2 separate regions of the Homo sapiens genome follow, and region 1 is linked to region 2. The links come from fine-mapping of genetic effects on gene expression. Tissue or cell type: whole blood. Region 2 holds a variant in brackets; the other region holds the start of a gene. All regions are shown on one strand. Distances are from middle to middle.

What was found. PIP is the estimated chance that this variant, and not a neighbour inherited with it, causes the effect.
Region 1: it holds the start of UQCRB, and the variant in region 2 is fine-mapped to the expression of UQCRB in whole blood (TOPMed, PIP 0.97).

The regions. Positions count from the first base shown.
Region 1 is chr8:96,230,812-96,239,149 of GRCh38, reverse strand. It overlaps UQCRB (ubiquinol-cytochrome c reductase binding protein), which reads left to right and starts at 3,605. Exons shown (of 4, transcript NM_006294.5): 1 at 3,605-3,638; 2 at 5,923-5,994; 3 at 7,210-7,376; 4 at 8,018-8,338. The coding sequence starts at 3,620. The coding sequence ends at 8,095. It overlaps UQCRB-AS1 (UQCRB antisense RNA 1), which reads right to left and starts at 3,857. Exons shown (of 2, transcript NR_183275.1): 1 at 3,589-3,857; 2 at 1-1,243. RefSeq lists an enhancer at 3,599-3,878.
Region 2 is chr8:96,252,004-96,260,341 of GRCh38, reverse strand. MTERF3 (mitochondrial transcription termination factor 3) reads left to right here. Exons shown (of 8, transcript NM_015942.5): 2 at 1,642-1,985; 3 at 3,228-3,380. The coding sequence starts at 1,652. Among named protein-coding and RNA genes, the nearest start is that of MTERF3, 5.4 kb to the left of the region's middle. The variant C/T (reference allele first, on the strand shown) is at 4,104.

The DNA.
Region 1 (8,338 bases), 21 kb after region 2:
TCCAGAGCATACTACATTAGTCATCTAATATCTACTGCTCAGATAATGCTACAAAACACACTTCATTTTGGATTATCTACATTGTTAACTTCTTGAACACAGATATTCACAGTTGGCTAAGAATAAGGAAAAGGAAAGTGGAGTTTAAAGATTAGGGGCAATGAGATATAGTGAAAGGCTTAACTAGCCTTTGACTTATTACCAGTAAACAAATATTTGTTTTCCATTTACAACATGTGTTATCCTGGGCAAGTGATTTCATTTCTGAGCCTTTGCTTTTTTATTTGTAAAACGAAGCATCATGACTTCAGTTGTCTGCCTTATGATCACCAGATTGGGTAGACTGTTAACACTGGGGGCCCCCATGAACCATACCTGGTATTTGCACTCTTGTGTAGTTAGTCCTCTCCCACACTGACTCTGGGCCGATGTGATTTGGCCCAGAGGACATTTGTCAAGCAGAGGCTTAAGGATTTGCACATCAGGGCTTGCCCTCTTGGAACATTTGCTCTTGGCACCCTAAGCTACTGTGTAGAGAGGTCTGGTTACTCTGCTGGAGAAACTAGGTGGACAGAAAGATGTCTGGCCAAACCCAGCTTTTTCAGACATGCCAACTGAGCACCAGACATGCATGAAGAAATTATCTGGGATGTCCCAGACTTAGTAGATACTACACTAAGCAGAACGACCCAGCGGAATTCAGAATTGGGAGAAAGTGTTTTAAGCCGCTAACTTTGGGGGTAGTTTGTTGTGCACAGGGTTCTGTGGTGTGCTGGATGCCCTTTAAAAAACCTCATGAAAAACTAAATTTGTAATTGGTCAGGGCCAGGTATAGTGGCCTTCCTGTTACATATTTTATTCATGCAACCGACATTTGAGTTCTATAATACAGTGGTGAGTGTGGCATAGATATGTGCTTTCATGGAGTTCTCCAATGGATGAGATCAATAAACAGGAAACAATAAAAAATAAGCTGGGGACACCATGGAACCATCCTGTCCTCTCTTTCTGTGGCTCACAACCTCATTTTGCCTTTATGAATAACCCAGTGAACAACCTTAGCAGTCAGAATAGGCAAGTTGTGTTGATACAATGAACAATCCTAAAACCTCAAATGATTGAAAAACCACAAAAGTTTTTATCTTATACATGTTTCTTAGGACCACAAAGGCTCTGCTCCACATCATCTTCAGTGATACAGGTTGATGTATCCTGTCTCCATCATTTCTGGAGTGTTGCCAGTCTATGGAAAAGGAAAGGAATGTGAAGAATTGCTCTTAAAAAGTTATCACATTTTTCTTGGCCAAAGTATCACATGGCCATGCCTAACTTTAATAGGGCAGAGAGGCAATCCCTAATCCTGTGCTGGGAGGAAAGAAAACCAAAAATAGTTTTTGAATCAACAATCACTACCAGCAAACATTCAGTCTCTCTAGCTTAATTCCTTAGGAGCTGGATTTTGTGACAATTTTGGGTTTCAGATCTTTTGATATGTCTTTTCTTGCCACCTTCACCTGTAACCAGCAAGCTAAAACTTAAAGGGTGGAAGGGAGGAGAGTTTATTGAGTACCTACCCTCTGCAGGGCAATGTGCCAATGTACAAATGTACTGCATTTCTTCACATCTTTCAGACTTCACTTTGGCTAGTGTAAGATAGATCATTCATCAGCTTTAGTGCTGTATACAGGACTGACTAATGAAGAAATTGTGACAGCATGGAGATAGAAGAAAAAGGAAAATCAATATAATTTTAGAACTGGAATGTGACTAAGATCGTTAAATCTAACCTTTTGAACTTAGGATGAGACAAGGTTCTACTCTATATTGTCCCAGCTCTGAGCTTAAAACTGAGGGGAAAAAAAAGATATCACTGAGTAATGGTAGAAGTTCACCAGTAACTATCAGTCATGCTAGCTCCCCCTAATTGTTTTCTGTCTCTAGATGTTTATGCCTAAGACTTCGCATGTTGGGGTTGAGACCTTAAAAGTGAGAAAATCTATATACTTCTCTTTTGTCTTAAAATTGTGTGCAAATTCTGCAATACATCTTAGATTTAATCTTTAAAAACCTTTTCTGCTGGGCATGATGGCTCACGCGGGTAACCCAGCATTTTGGGAGGCTGACGTGGGTGGATCACTTGAGGTCAAGAGTTTGATACCAGCCTGGCCAACACGGTGAAACCCCGTCTCTACTAAAAATACAAAAATTAGCGGGCATGGTAGTGTGTACACCTGTAGTCCCAGCTACTCAGGAGGCTGAGGCACGAGTCATTTGAACCCAGGAGGCAGAGGTTGCAGTGAGCCGAGATTGTGCCATTCAGCCTGGGTGACAGAGGCTGAACAACAAAAAAAAGGGTGAAAAAAAACAAACAAAAAAAACCCAAAACCTTTTCTGACCTAACCTTCCACTAAAATAGCTAGATATAGATCTTCAGCTGGAGAAACCCAAGGCCTGAAAGGCTTGGTGTCTTTCCTGGATTAGTAGTGTAGCAGTATAGCATATGACCCTAGAATTAAGGAGCCCCAAATTTGCATCTGGATTTTCAGATTCTGGAAGAAGAACCTGGACTCTTCTAGTCATGTGCTCTTGGACAAGTTATTCAACCTTTCTGAGCCTCAGCTTTCTCCTCTCTACAATGAGATAATTACAGTACTTTTAGAATTAAAAGATAGTTTAGGGGAGTGAGAGATCACCTCCAACCCTCCCTCCCCTTTGCTCTTATGTGGGCTCTTTGGTTGAATCTAGGAACCAAATTGACACATGGCAGATTAACAAGAGAAAAGCATACTAATTTTACTAGTTTTACATGTACATGGGGATCCGCACAAAAGAGTGAAGTGGCCAATGTAAGATGCCTTTATACTTTTTACACGAACTACAAATCAGAAGAAAGGGGATCTGGCTAGGGGCAGTAAATTTCTCGCGGAGTCATTAGGAGAAAAGTGTGTGTGTTGGGGTGTAAACTTAGTGGAAGATAACGGTTACTTCGGAAAGTATATTCAGGTCCAAAGCAGCCCCCAGTTTCGTCTCTGGTGATAGGTGCTATTTTCTCCCTCTGGTAAGGGACGGGTACTCCAGAGGAATCCTGGAGGAAGCTTTATGGCTTGCTGCATGCAGGAAGAGATAGGTCATCAAACCTTTTCTGAAACTACAATTTCTCCAATATTTTCAACTCGAAATAATCAATGTACCAATTCCATATATTTTTGGGATGGCACATCCATCAGTCCTTCAATAGAAAGTAAGACGATGCCCTTAAAACATTTAGCTTCCTGCCTGGCACAAAGAGCTGAATTAATACTGTCCACGCTCCCATAGCTATTAACAGCAAATAACAGAACCCAGCTTTAAGCCTTGGTCTCCTAATTCCTGACCTGTGTTCTTCCCATCACATCACAACCAATACTTCTTAGAATGTAGCACGCAAAATGCCCCGCCTACTCCATTGGCCTCACCCTGGCCGAGAGGTGCTTACGCAGGTGCTGAACGGCAGTCGTCAGAACTGCGCCTGCGCAAGCGGCCTTTCTCTGTTCGCGATGTGACGTAACGCGCCTGCGGACTGGGCCCAGCTTGTCCTCTATGACTTACCCAGAAGGCAACGCTTCTCTTTCTGGTCAAAATGGCTGGTAAGCAGGCCGGTAAGTAACTGGGGGTCTTCTTGGCCGGCATCGTCGCGCTTCACCGTTTATTTTTGCTGCAGCTTGCTCCGTTTTCTCTCTTCTTTGTAAGTGGCCAAGTTTGTCGCGGAAGGGAAATTGGCTGCTTCAGTCCAGTGAAAAGGATGTGCTTCCCCACTCGTTTGCTGTCCCCAGGGCGGGCTTGCCTGTATAGGGTTGGGATGTTAACCCGCTGTTTGTGAAGGTGCCCGCGGTGGCTCTGACAGCCCTGGAGTTCCAGCTGCCCGTGCTTGGAAGTCCTTCCCCTTGGCCTTAGAAAAGTTAAAGGGCACAAGAGGATAACTAGTGGATGACTTTCAACCCGAATGAGCTCAGTGCTTTCTATGACCCAAGTGCTCTATCGTGTGCATTGGCCCTATAAATTTTCTTGCCATTGCGACGAGGGAGATATTAATTTCCCTTTTACGCTGATAAGATAACTGAGGCAAAGTGACCCAAGGAAGTAGAATTGGAAATATCATTGCACCCCTCGCGCTTCTCAAACTGCGAATCAGAGACAGTTGAGCAAGGGATACGAGCGACGCTTCAGGTTGACCTTGGATTATCTAGAGCGTCAGCTTGATCAGTAGGTTTGGAGAAATTTGAATTTATTGTAGGTTCTTTTTTTCTTTTTTCTTTCTTTTTTTTTTTTTTTGCTAATCTCTGCCCTCTGGCGGTACAAGTTGGAGTAGCCGTTTTGTTTGTTTGTTTGTTTTGTCTTTGAGACGGAGTCTTGCTTTGTCGCCCAGGCTGGAGTGCAATGGCACAATCTCGTCTCACTGCAATGCAACCAAGTTGGAGTAGCTTAAAAAATGTTGATCCTTTTCTCCCCGCCCCCAGCAATTGTGAAGCTGTTAGGAAACATCAGGTTGCCAGAAACATCCGTTAACCTAATTGACATTGAGCTTTTTGGGGGTGGGGGAGACTTTTTAAATAATTATTTTATTAATTTGGCAGATATTGAAGGAGTCTTACTAAATTCAAGACACTGCTTCTGTGCGTGTTTGGGAACTACATAGACCAGATCTCAACTCCCATTAGCTAACTCTGACCTTGGGTGGGATCACTTCTGTAAGCCAGCTTCCCCTTCTGTAGTAACAGACATGTAAATAAATCAGCTAATGTTGGTAAAGCAAATAGGAAAGTGTTTGGTGCACAATAAGTGCTTAGTGAATATTATTATAGTCACTGATAGGTGGTTGAATATAATCTGTCTTCCACAAGTATGTTTGTAGATTGTTGACTGATACTTGTTTTTCTAGCAGCAGTTTTATACATGACTCTTAATTTCCAAGGAGATTTGCTAAAGCCACGTAATCTGTAGTGCACTGAGTTTGCAAGCAAGGAGAGTTGAGTGAAAGGAGAGTTTGCTTTCCTTCCTTGGTAAGGGCTAACCCTAGACAAAATTTTAAAAGAGAATACAAACCTGTTCTACCTCTCCTTTTGTAAAATGTCTCTCCTAAAATGTCAGATACGGTCCTGCTGTACTTGGACCCTGCTGGGTTACTTCATCAGGCTCAGCCCTGTTCCCCAAACAGTTTTAAAATTACCTATTTCTCATCCTTTTTCAATATCCATTCCCTTGGGGGGAACTTAGTTGCTTAGGAGGAGGTAAATGGACTTCTTTTACGAATCCATATTAATGTTTAAATGACTAATGGTATCAAAATCCTCCCCAAAATACATACATTTTTAAAGAATGTGGCCAAATGAAATAACTGTAATATCGAGTAAAAATTTTAGAGGATGAGGGTCATTTAGACCTGCCAGTCTATGCTGAAATCTCACTGTCTTTTCCCTACAACTCCAGCTCTCTTGAAATGAAAAGTTTACAATTATTTCCTGTGATCTATTTATGAAACTACAAATGATGGAAATTTCCAAGTCCTTTTCCTATCTCCCACCCCTTCATTTCTGAAGGTAACAGGGCAGGCATAAGGGCACACGATGTACCTATGGATCTTTTGTACATTCAGTGTTTGAGTTTACCCTTTTCTTTCATGACTTGCCACCATTTTCCTGCAACCACTTTTGCTCATAAATAAAATAAGCACTTTTTATCAACATTTTATAGAGTATAAACTTTTTTCTTTTAAATCTAATTCTTTTGATTAAATTCTTGCTGTATATACTATATACTTTTAAAAGGAAATTTATTTCTATGTTTGCATTCATCAGCAAGATAACTGAGTACTGGTTGCTTGCCTATCAATGTGTTCATATAGTATAATTAAATTGTAGCAATTAACAGTGTGACAATTATCAGTTTCAGCATCAGGCAAGTGGCTGGATGGTATTCGAAAATGGTATTACAATGCTGCAGGATTCAATAAACTGGGTAAGCAGCTGTGCTGTTTAATGTTTTTTGTTGTTGTTGTTGTTTCTTTGTTTTTTTTTTTGTTTTTCTGAGAGTATTGCTTTTGCAAGTGTTACTGTGGTTCCAAAAACCATTTCAGTTCTTGTATACATCAGAAGATTTTAAAATTAAATCACATTATGTTAAATCCAGTTCCTTTTTAAAGTTTTTTTGAGAGAAGAGGGATGAAAGCCTCTAAAATGTTCGACTTGGTAATGATTTAAGTAGTAAGACATTTTCCTTCTACACCCCCTTTCCCAACTCTTCCACTTAAAATTTTATTTATTTATTTATTTATTTATTTGAGACAGAGTCTTGCTCTGTCACCAGGCTGGAGTGCAGTGGCGCAATCACGGTTCACTGCAACCTCCGCCTCCCGAGTTCAAGTGATTCTCCTGCCTCAGCCTCCTGAGTAGCTGGGATTACAGGCGTGTGCCACCACGCCTGGCTAATTTTTTTTGTATGTAGTAGAGACGGGGTTTCACCATATTAGGCTGGTCGCAAACTCCTGACCTCAGGTGATCCACCTGCCTCGGCCTCCCAAAGTGCTGGGATTATAGGTGTGCACTACTGCGCCCGGCCTTCCACTTAAAATTTTAATTTAAATTATATAAACATTGAAAGTAGAGAGTTTTTGAATATTAAAATTTTATCACGTCCATGCAATCATATGATTCCTAAGCTTTTTTAGAACTTTGTAATTTACCATGAACTTCATCTTTTACTATTGAAGCTTGAAGAAAGTGTAAGCAAAAGTCACTGTTCCTTAGTATACTATCATTTTAAGATTCTTTAATACCTTGATCTCAGATTTAAACTATGAGAAAAAAGAGATGTGGTTTATTAATGTGTGTTTAAAAACAAAGTAAACATTTAAAATATTTTGTAAATGGTTTAGATAAAATATGAATTTTGTGGCATTGGATTTTAAGAGGCTCATATATTGTTTCCATAGTCTAGTTCAAGAAGTAACCCATTATATCAAGTAATAACTCATTACTTTTAATGGCAAAACTGCAATTACTTTTGCACCAACCTATAATGTATGAAATGCATTGAATTTCCATTGAACCTAGTGATTTGAATTCGATAGTTCACCAAAAGTTGTAAGTTATAAGTCATAAAGGTATTTTACTAATTTAAAAAAACCGCGATTTTTGAGATGCATGTGCAATCTAACTTTGTCATCTATCATAGGGTTAATGCGAGATGATACAATATACGAGGATGAAGATGTAAAAGAAGCCATAAGAAGACTTCCTGAGAACCTTTATAATGACAGGATGTTTCGCATTAAGAGGGCACTGGACCTGAACTTGAAGCATCAGATCTTGCCTAAAGAGCAGTGGACCAAATATGAAGAGGTAGCACAGCTTTATCTACCTGACAGTGTTGCTCATTAAGGATGGAGTTTTAGAAACAAGAGAAACATGTTCATTTGCATAGTGTTAGAGTTCTCTGAGTCATGTCAAATAAATATGTGAGGTTAATAAAGCAAATGTTATTTCCGTTTTAGAAGAAAACCACATTGAGTCTTACGTGTGAAATGATTCTTCTGAAATTACTAAGCAAGTCTCTAATATAGAGAGCCAGGACTAAAATCCAGGTCTGTTGCCTCCCAGGTCTTTGCTGTTCCAGCTCTGCACTCTGCTTCCTACTTAGATGAAAAGATCAGCCCATTGAGTGTCCCTCCAGATCCCAAGAAGAGCTTCTGTGAAGCAAACTCTCACCCCTTGAACTGCATTGAAACTAGGCAAAGGCCTGTGGACATTCATTTCTTTTTCTTCCCGAAAAGACTTCCCCCTCATAACCTATCAAAGCAACTTATCACACCATCACCACAGATTTGACATTTTAAAAAGCAGATAGTTCTTAGGTTGAGAATATGTTTTCTAAAATTGGAAATTCAAAAGTAATTGCTTTTTTCTTGTTATTGAAGACCTGTTGAGTGTTTGGGATATATCAGTACGTGATGGTAACATATAATATTTCATTCATTCTTTAGGAAAATTTCTACCTTGAACCGTATCTGAAAGAGGTTATTCGGGAAAGAAAAGAAAGAGAAGAATGGGCAAAGAAGTAATCATGTAGTTGAAGTCTGTGGATGCAGCTGTTATGAAGATGGTTAAACTTGAAACAAACAATTTTAAGAATTATTTGGTCTGAAGATGTTTTACTTTAAATAAATGTCTATTGTAATGGCTGGAGTTTTTGAATTCCAAACCTTATACTGAATAACTACTGAATCCCTTTACTGTTAAATTTTTTTCCAAACTTTCAAGATATATTTAGTTGTGTTTAACTGCTACTTGGAGCTCAGAAGCCA
Region 2 (8,338 bases):
CGTGCAGAGAATGAATGTTGTAGGTTTGAGGGAAAACTTGGCACATTTGGAGTCCCATTTCCCACCAAAATCTAACAGAAACCACCTATCCCAGCAGGGTATTGTGAATACTTACTTCTTTTCTAAAATCATCGCAGAATGGGCCGAGCGCAGTGGCTCACGCCTGTAATCCCAGCACTTTGGGAAGCTGGGTGGATCACCTGAGGTAAGGAGTTCGAGGCCAGCCTGGCCAAGATGGTGAAACCCCGTCTCTACTAAAAACACAAAAAATTAGCCGGGCATAGTAGCGGGCGTGGGTAATCCCAGCTACTCGGGAGGCTGAGGCAGGAGAATCACTTGAACCTGGGAGGCAGAGGTTGCAGTGAGCCAAGATGGTGCCGTTGTACTCCAGCCTGGGCAACAAGGGCGAAACTCCGTCTCAAAAAAAATAATAATAATAATAATAATAAATAATTGCAGAATGAAAGGAAACTTTCACTTTTGTAAAATCTCTTTCAGCAAACTTCCCAAAACTACAGATCTCCAAGAAAAGATTAGACCCTCAAGTATTTGGTCTAATTTAGAGCATAAAACAAGCTGAATTCCAGTATGCAGAAAAACAAAGTATAAAGTTGTAGGCAGCAATTAATTCAGCAGAATTTTTGTATTTGGTTGTGTAACCAATAATAATGGCTAACATTTATTGAGCATTTCTTATATCCTGACTCCATCCTGTGTTTTATATGGATAATGTTATTTAACGTAAGATTATATGCATCAAATTTACCTTTCTAATTAGCTGGCTAAATATAAAATCCCTTCATATTCCTGGAGTTTAACATAGCACTAGCCTTTCCTGATAAAAATATTTTTGAAAACTACTTTTTCAGTCAAAATATACAGGTATTAATTGCTGGTTGCTTATTTATTTCTGTCACTTGGTTTTGTTACTAGTTTTGACCTTTTCTTTTTGAAGGCTTTTTTCTCCTTTCCTACAGTGAAACAAAACTTGACAAAACTGGTTTTGTTCAATTCCCTTTGGAAGAACAGCTTTATCTGTGAAGTAATCAACAGTGTTCAGCCCTGAGAATGAAGCAAGAAACTGCTTTCACTGTTCTGTATATCAATGATAATATTTTGATGATTTGTTTAGGACACAGTAGATTTCTGTTTTTTCATTTTGGGACAAATTTATATACATAAAATGCATTTGAATAATTCAGTGTTACTTTGATCAGCAATGTGCTGCGGAAACACCCTTCACACCAAATTTCAAGAACACTTATTTGCATCAGCTTATTCTCTTTAAATGATTAAATTAACAGATTAGTGAGGTCTGCTGTCACTTGAACATTTGCAGATTTTTGTTTTAAGCATTTTTCTTACACCAGTGTCATTGCATTTTGTTTTTAAATTGTAAAGTATATCTTTATTTTTCCACTCAGAAGTTCCTGTCTGTTGGTTTGTAACTGAGATTGCCTTGTTGTTGGCTTTTCCTGTACATAAGAAACATCTCACTATTTTAGACTAAATATATATTTAAACACCTTTCAATTAGAAAAAAATAATTTCCAGTTTATCTTTTTGTTGTTTGAATACCGTTTTAAACATTTAAGTAAATTAAATTTCTCTTCTTTTGACGGTTATATCTTTCCTTTGTAGACTAAGAAAAATGGCTTTGTCAGCCCAACAGATACCCAGATGGTTTAACTCAGTTAAGTTGAGGAGCCTCATTAATGCTGCACAACTCACAAAACGTTTTACTAGACCAGCAAGAACACTGTTACATGGCTTTTCTGCTCAGCCTCAGATATCCTCTGACAATTGCTTTCTCCAGTGGGGATTTAAGACTTACAGGACTTCCTCCTTATGGAATAGTTCCCAGTCTACTAGCTCAAGTAGTCAGGAGAATAATTCTGCCCAAAGCAGTCTGCTTCCTTCCATGAATGAACAGTCACAGAAGACACAAAATATATCCAGCTTTGATTCTGAGCTGTTTCTAGAAGGTAATTCTGAACTTTCAGAAAAGTCTCCCTTTCCCTACTTTGGCCATTTGAACAAGCTACCTGTTTACCTTCTGCTAGCCCATTTCAGGTAATATTTTGTGCCAAGAAAGAAAAAGAATAATACCAGTTCTATTGATGAACTTCTATCATGCCTTTATTTTACTGGTAAGAAAAAAAGTTTGTGGGCTAACGTGTAAGATTATTTTATAGCTACACATATAAAACATTTGCTTTTTAAATATTTTATTGTTTAGATTCTTAAAACAAAATTCTTCTAGTGGTAATTAGTTTTATTAGGGTATAATTATATCAAGTAAAATTCATCTTGTGGGATATATAGTTCTATGAATTTTGACATATGCATTTAGTGTGTAAGAACTACTGCAATCAACAAATAAAACAATTATATTAACTCCACAGAGTTCCCTCATGGTCGCTTTTTAGTCAATCCTCTCCTTCCTATGGGTCCTATTCTAGGAATATTTCGCTGGTAATGAAATGATATAAGGTTAAGTAGAATATGAAGGAAAGAGAGCTGGGGAGAGGGCAGGGAGGAGATGCTGGCTATAAATGATGAGAAAGGATAGTTAATGATGAGAAGCACAAAACAGAACAAAAGATCACAGACCTGATTCCTTAGCTTAAGGTAATGTGTAGTTCTAAGTGTCTTCCATGCTGCGTTTGATTTTAAAAAAACAAAAACAACTTCAGAATCAGGGCTGTACTAGAGAGTCACATCTCCTGTAGAGAGGACTGCAGGTTGTAGAAACAATCATAGAAGCCCTTTTAAAGATGTATTTGAGGGTAACTTGGAAGGGAGGGCATTGGGTCAAAACAAAGACTTTCGGGATATGATTACTTTAATCCATGCAATTCAGACTGTTGGCATATGTGTACTTTTAGCCAAGTTAACAGGCTATGGTAAACTCAATCTCTGTTTCAAAATTCACTTGAAAGTTAGGTGATTTTTAGCATTCTCACCTACTGATTAAGTGAAGGAAAGGCATTGTGTGCTTTGAAATTTACCAACAAATTTCTAATCTCAGAGGAACAGTAGTTAGTCTGTCTAAATAGTTGTAACCTTACCTCTTAAAAGGTGAAAAATTAGGGACTTGGATGTTTAATTCTAAAATGATCCCAAGATTTAACCACTGAAAGAAGCAAACAAGGGAAGAGCTGGTCTTTGCAGAAATAGTTTTAAGTGTGCATATTAGAGCACTAATTTGTTTCTCTCTTTCAAAGAACTGGATGAATTGCCTCCATTGTCTCCAATGCAGCCAATTTCAGAGGAAGAGGCTATTCAGATTATTGCAGACCCTCCATTGCCACCAGCTTCATTCACACTTCGAGACTATGTGGATCATTCTGAGACTCTGCAGAAGTTGGTTCTTCTAGGTAAGTTTGACTAAACTACAAGTACTTTTTGCATGTACTCTTCATTACTTTTTTTACTTTTTTAAATTAACAATTTAATCTATACTAAGTAGTATACAAACATAAGCAAAAGTCTAATAGCATAAAGGCTTCTAGTGAGAAACCGTATTCCCTGCCTCATCCTTGGTGATCTTGCATCCTATTCCCCAGATGCATCTACTTAACTTGTATCATTCTTTCTGTTTGTGTTCAACCTCCTCATTTTAAAATAGTTGTTTGTAGTGCTGTTGTTTGGTTCATCAGTTTTAGACATCATTTGATCTCTTGTATGTACACATGTACTTTTCCTGTATTCTTTTCAATTCTCCTAATATAAATTACAATTTTAGATAAATCATTAGTCAGTAGTTAAATTATGACTATAAATATTGCTATCTGCCCTAACAAGAAGTATGCTATCATTATTTACCTTCCTGTACAACTTTTCATTTTTCCGGCAGTAATAGTTGCCTTGTTCTTCATTTGATGAATTGTTTTGTTTGTTTGTTTGTTTCTGGGGTTAAACTTTTCCATACCTTCCAGTAGCCTCTCAGGACAGTTTTTCCCAGGTAACCCTATCAGATGATGTATTTCATTTCTCCAGAGTGGATTGTTCCCTGCTTGTCACACTACCCCGACCTCCTTCCTGAAGCCACTGTCCTCCTGATTTGAATGGTTTCTAGGCCTACTCTATAGCTGCCTTCA[C/T]TTGTTGACCATTAGGTTGCACTTGGATCTGGATAGCTTAAGGGAGCCAGGGGATCTCCGTCCAAACTTTCATTTAGTCATCTTATTTTTAGTCTGGCATTTTATTACAAACTTTTGCTTTCCTCATTTCTCTGGGTTTGGTACTTCTCATACTTGATTTTCCCAGATAATGAATCTCCTTTCTCCTAGTGCATTGAGAGGAACTGGATTTGGGGGAGGTCGGGTCTCTCCATACCCAATACCCCAGTTTTTAGTCTGTACCTCACCTCTAATCTCTCAGATTTCTAGGGACTCCAATTTTGGAGACTTTTGAGTTTTTTGTGGTACTGATCACTTACCACTTGCCAGATTCTCATTTGCAGGCATTTCAGTGTCGTCTTTCTCCTCTCCGATAAGGCTGTTGCCATGCTTTCATCTGTTTTCAGATGTTTTCAGATATGTGGGGATATAATCTCGTTTCCTCAAAGAAGGATCTCATTTTTTGTTTGTCATTCCCCATATTTTTGGGAGGTGATTTTTAACAGGAGAGGAAAAAGAGAAAAATCTGTGCTCTGTTAGAAACTTTGGGGGTCATCCTTGATTTTTTTTTTTTTTTTTTTCTTCAGACTGGGTCTCACTCTGTCTCCCAGGCTGGAGTACAGTGGTACCATCTCAGCTCACTGCAACCTGCCTCCCAGGTTCAAGTGATTCTCCTGCCTCAGCCTCCCTGGTAGCTGAGATTACAAGCACGTGCCACCATGCCTGGCTATTTTTTGTATTTTTAGTAGAGACGAGGTTTCACCCTGTTGGCCAGGCTGATCTTGAACTCTTGGCCTCAAGGGATCTGTCCACCTCGGCCTCCCAAAGTACTGAGATTATAGGCATGAGCCACCGCACTCGGCCTATCCTTGATTCTTATTGCTTTTGTCCCCTTCCTCTTTACATCTAATTTAATAGCTTATCCTATGGATTCTACCCTCTCTATTTCTTTCAAATCCATCCACTTCTCTCATCCTACAGTCACTACCTTGTTTAGGTCCTCATTTGTCACTGAGTGGCTGCAGGAGCCTCCTATCTTGATAGTCTTCTCCTCAGCAGTATTGGCTCTGATATCTTTCCAGTGTTAGTGCTCTTTCTGAAATGCAGATCTAAGTCAGTGACCTATTTAAAATCCTTCAAAACCTTCCCATGGCATCAAAGCTTTTCCTGATTTGGCTTCTGCTTACCTGTTCAGCTTCATGGCTTGCCACTTCCCTCCTTTGTTTAGCCAACTCCAACAACTGGAGAACATCACTGAAGTCCAAGTAACTTCTAAAGTGTCTTCTTGACCCTGCAGACAGAGTGACCCTCTTCAGGCTCTCATTTCACTCCCTGCTTACTTGGATCCTAGCATTAATGACACTCTATTATAATTGTATACTCATCTGTCTGTGCCCAGTTACCCATATGTTACCCATATGTTTAGAATGGCCTTTGTTCTCAAGAAGCTTCAAGTCCTCAGAAACATCTAAATATATAAGAATAACTGGAATGCAAGGATGAAGAGCAAAGTGATAAGTCCCACATGAGAGGCAAATAAAGTGTTCTGTGAATCAGCCTAAGTGTCCATCAGTGGATGAATGGCTAAAGAAAATGTGGTATATTTATACACTGGAGTACTAGTCAGCCTTGAAAAAGGAGATCCTGTTATTTGCAACAACACGGATGAACCTGGAGGATGCTATGCTAAGTGAAATAAGCACAGAATGACTAATGCTACGTGATCTCACTTATATATGAAAGCTAAAAAAGTTGAACTCATAGGAGCAGAGGGAGCTGGGGAGTGGGGTGGGGAGGAATGGGGAGTTGTTGGGCAAAGGGTACAAAGTTTCAATTAGACAGGTGGCATAAGTTTTGGAGATCTATTGTCCAGCATGATGATGGTAGTTAATAATAATGTATACTTGAAAATTGTTAAGAGAGTAGATTTTAAGTGTTCTCACCACAAAAAAAAGTCATGAATATGTAAGGTAATGAATATGTTAATTAGCTTGATTTAATCGTTCCACTATGTATACAAATGTCAAAACAGCATGTTGTATCCCATAAACATATAATTTAAAAAGTGTACATTCAGAGGCAGGAAAAAGATGATGTCTGCTGTGAGGAGACAGTCACTTTTCCTTTCGAAACAGCTTTCCCTGTCTTATGGCAGGTGCTATGGATGATACAAGATAAAACCTAAGACACAGTCCCTGTCTTATCTTTTTTTTGACACAGGGTCTTGCTCTGTCACCCAGGCTGGAGTGCAGTGACACAGTCTTGTCTCATTGCAGCCTTGACCTCCTGGGCTCAAGTGATCCTCCCACCTCAGCCCCGCAAGTAGCTGGGACTATAGGCACATGCCATCTGGGCTAATTTTTTTTTTTTTTTTTTTAAATAGAGGGAGGTCTCACTGTGTTGCCCAGGCTGGTCTCAAACTCTTGGGCTCAAGCTTTCCTCCCACCTCGGCTTTCCAAAGTGCTGGGATAACAGGCATGAGCCACCGTGCCTGGCCTAGTCCTTATCTTTAAATAATTTACAGTATACTTACAGGTTTGGAATATGTTTCAGCCATTCCTTTACCTGTATGCTGATACTTCAACAGCATGTCTTAGAAGTAACTTAAATAATAGTAACTTAGGGGAGCCTTATTTGCTCTGTCAGACAGTATTTTTGAGTACCCAAGTCCTAGTTTTTTCTCTGTTTGCTTCTGAGACCTGTTTTCTGCCCGATCTGTATCCCAGGAGGCCAACCCCTATGCACCAGGGCTCCTATGCCAGCTGGCTTCTTGGCAGCTTCAGCCAGTGGGAGGCACCTACAGGACAGAAGGTAGAAGGGTCAGGTGGGGATATTTTTCCCGTTCCTTCCCTTCTTTGGGTCCTGTACCTGCCTCACTCCATGACAACAGCACTCTTGAGCAGCCCTTCCTTAATAGCCTCTAGTCCCTCTGCGCCGTGGTAACATTTTGCCTCCTTGTCTCTTTATTGTTGGGAAGGCTCTTGTTTGTTCTCTTAAGGCTGCTCACACCGCTGTATAGAGTCCCTTCATTAAAGTCCTTGTCATTTGTACTTTCCAGGGCACGTTGTATAGCCTGCTAGACCCTGATTGATGTACTAAATACGTGTAACCATAACTGAATAAAATGGTAATATTCGTAATTACTGAACTGATGAGGTAAAGCCCAACTAGACTGGTCACCTAGAGGTTAGAATCGTGTATTATTCTTTTTTTATAACCCCAATACCTAAAAAAGTGCCTGGTCCATAGTGGGCATTCAGGGAATATTTTTTCAAGTTAATGAAATGAAGTGAGCCCAAGTTATTTGCATTGAGAGCAGTGTGCATTCCTGATGAGATTCTGCTCTCCTACTGCTGTTAAAAAGCAGCTTTTCAGGATTTCTGTTCGAGCACAGTCAGGGTGTGACAGCTCATGCTGAGCAAAGCACTTCAGTTCATGTCAGCTGTAATATTTAGTTAAATGTGAAGTCTGAACCCTTTATGTTATTTTTAGAGCATCCGCTCCCCCATTTATCACAGATTTTTGGAACTGGTTTTCATCTTATTTATTTGTCCATCTAATAATTGGATTTATTTTTCTACTAATATTATTTTTAAATTACAAAAGAATTACATCCGGTTGTCAAAAGTGCAGATATTATAAGAGAAGGACCTCTTACCCTCTCTTCGTCCCCAGTTCCACTTCTCAAAGGTAACCACTATTAACCAAATTGTGGAATAGCTTTCCAGACCTTTTTCTACACTAGGTTTTATACTATTCTGTAGTTAAACGTAATTTTTTTTGTTTTTCTAGTAGAGTTAATGTATGTTTAGATTCTTTATCTAGAATTAATTTCCGTATAAGATATAAAGATAATTTTTTTCAAAAGTATAGCTAATGGTCCCATATATTTTAACAAATAGTCTATCTATTTGATTTGAAATGCATTATTGTTTGTATAATAACATTTTTTAGTTTATTCTGGATCTGTTTCTCATCTTCATTGAGTGTGCGTATTATTCTGTTTTCACACTGCTGATAAAGACATACCCGAGACTGGGCAATTTACAAAAGGAAGAGGTTTAATGGACTTACAGTTCCATATGGCTGGGGAGGCCTCACAATTATGGCAGAAGGTGAAAGGCACGTCTCACGTGGCAGCAGCCAAGAGAAGGGAGCTTGTGCCTGGAAACCCCCCTTTTTAAAACCATCAGATCTCGTGAGACTTATTCAGTATC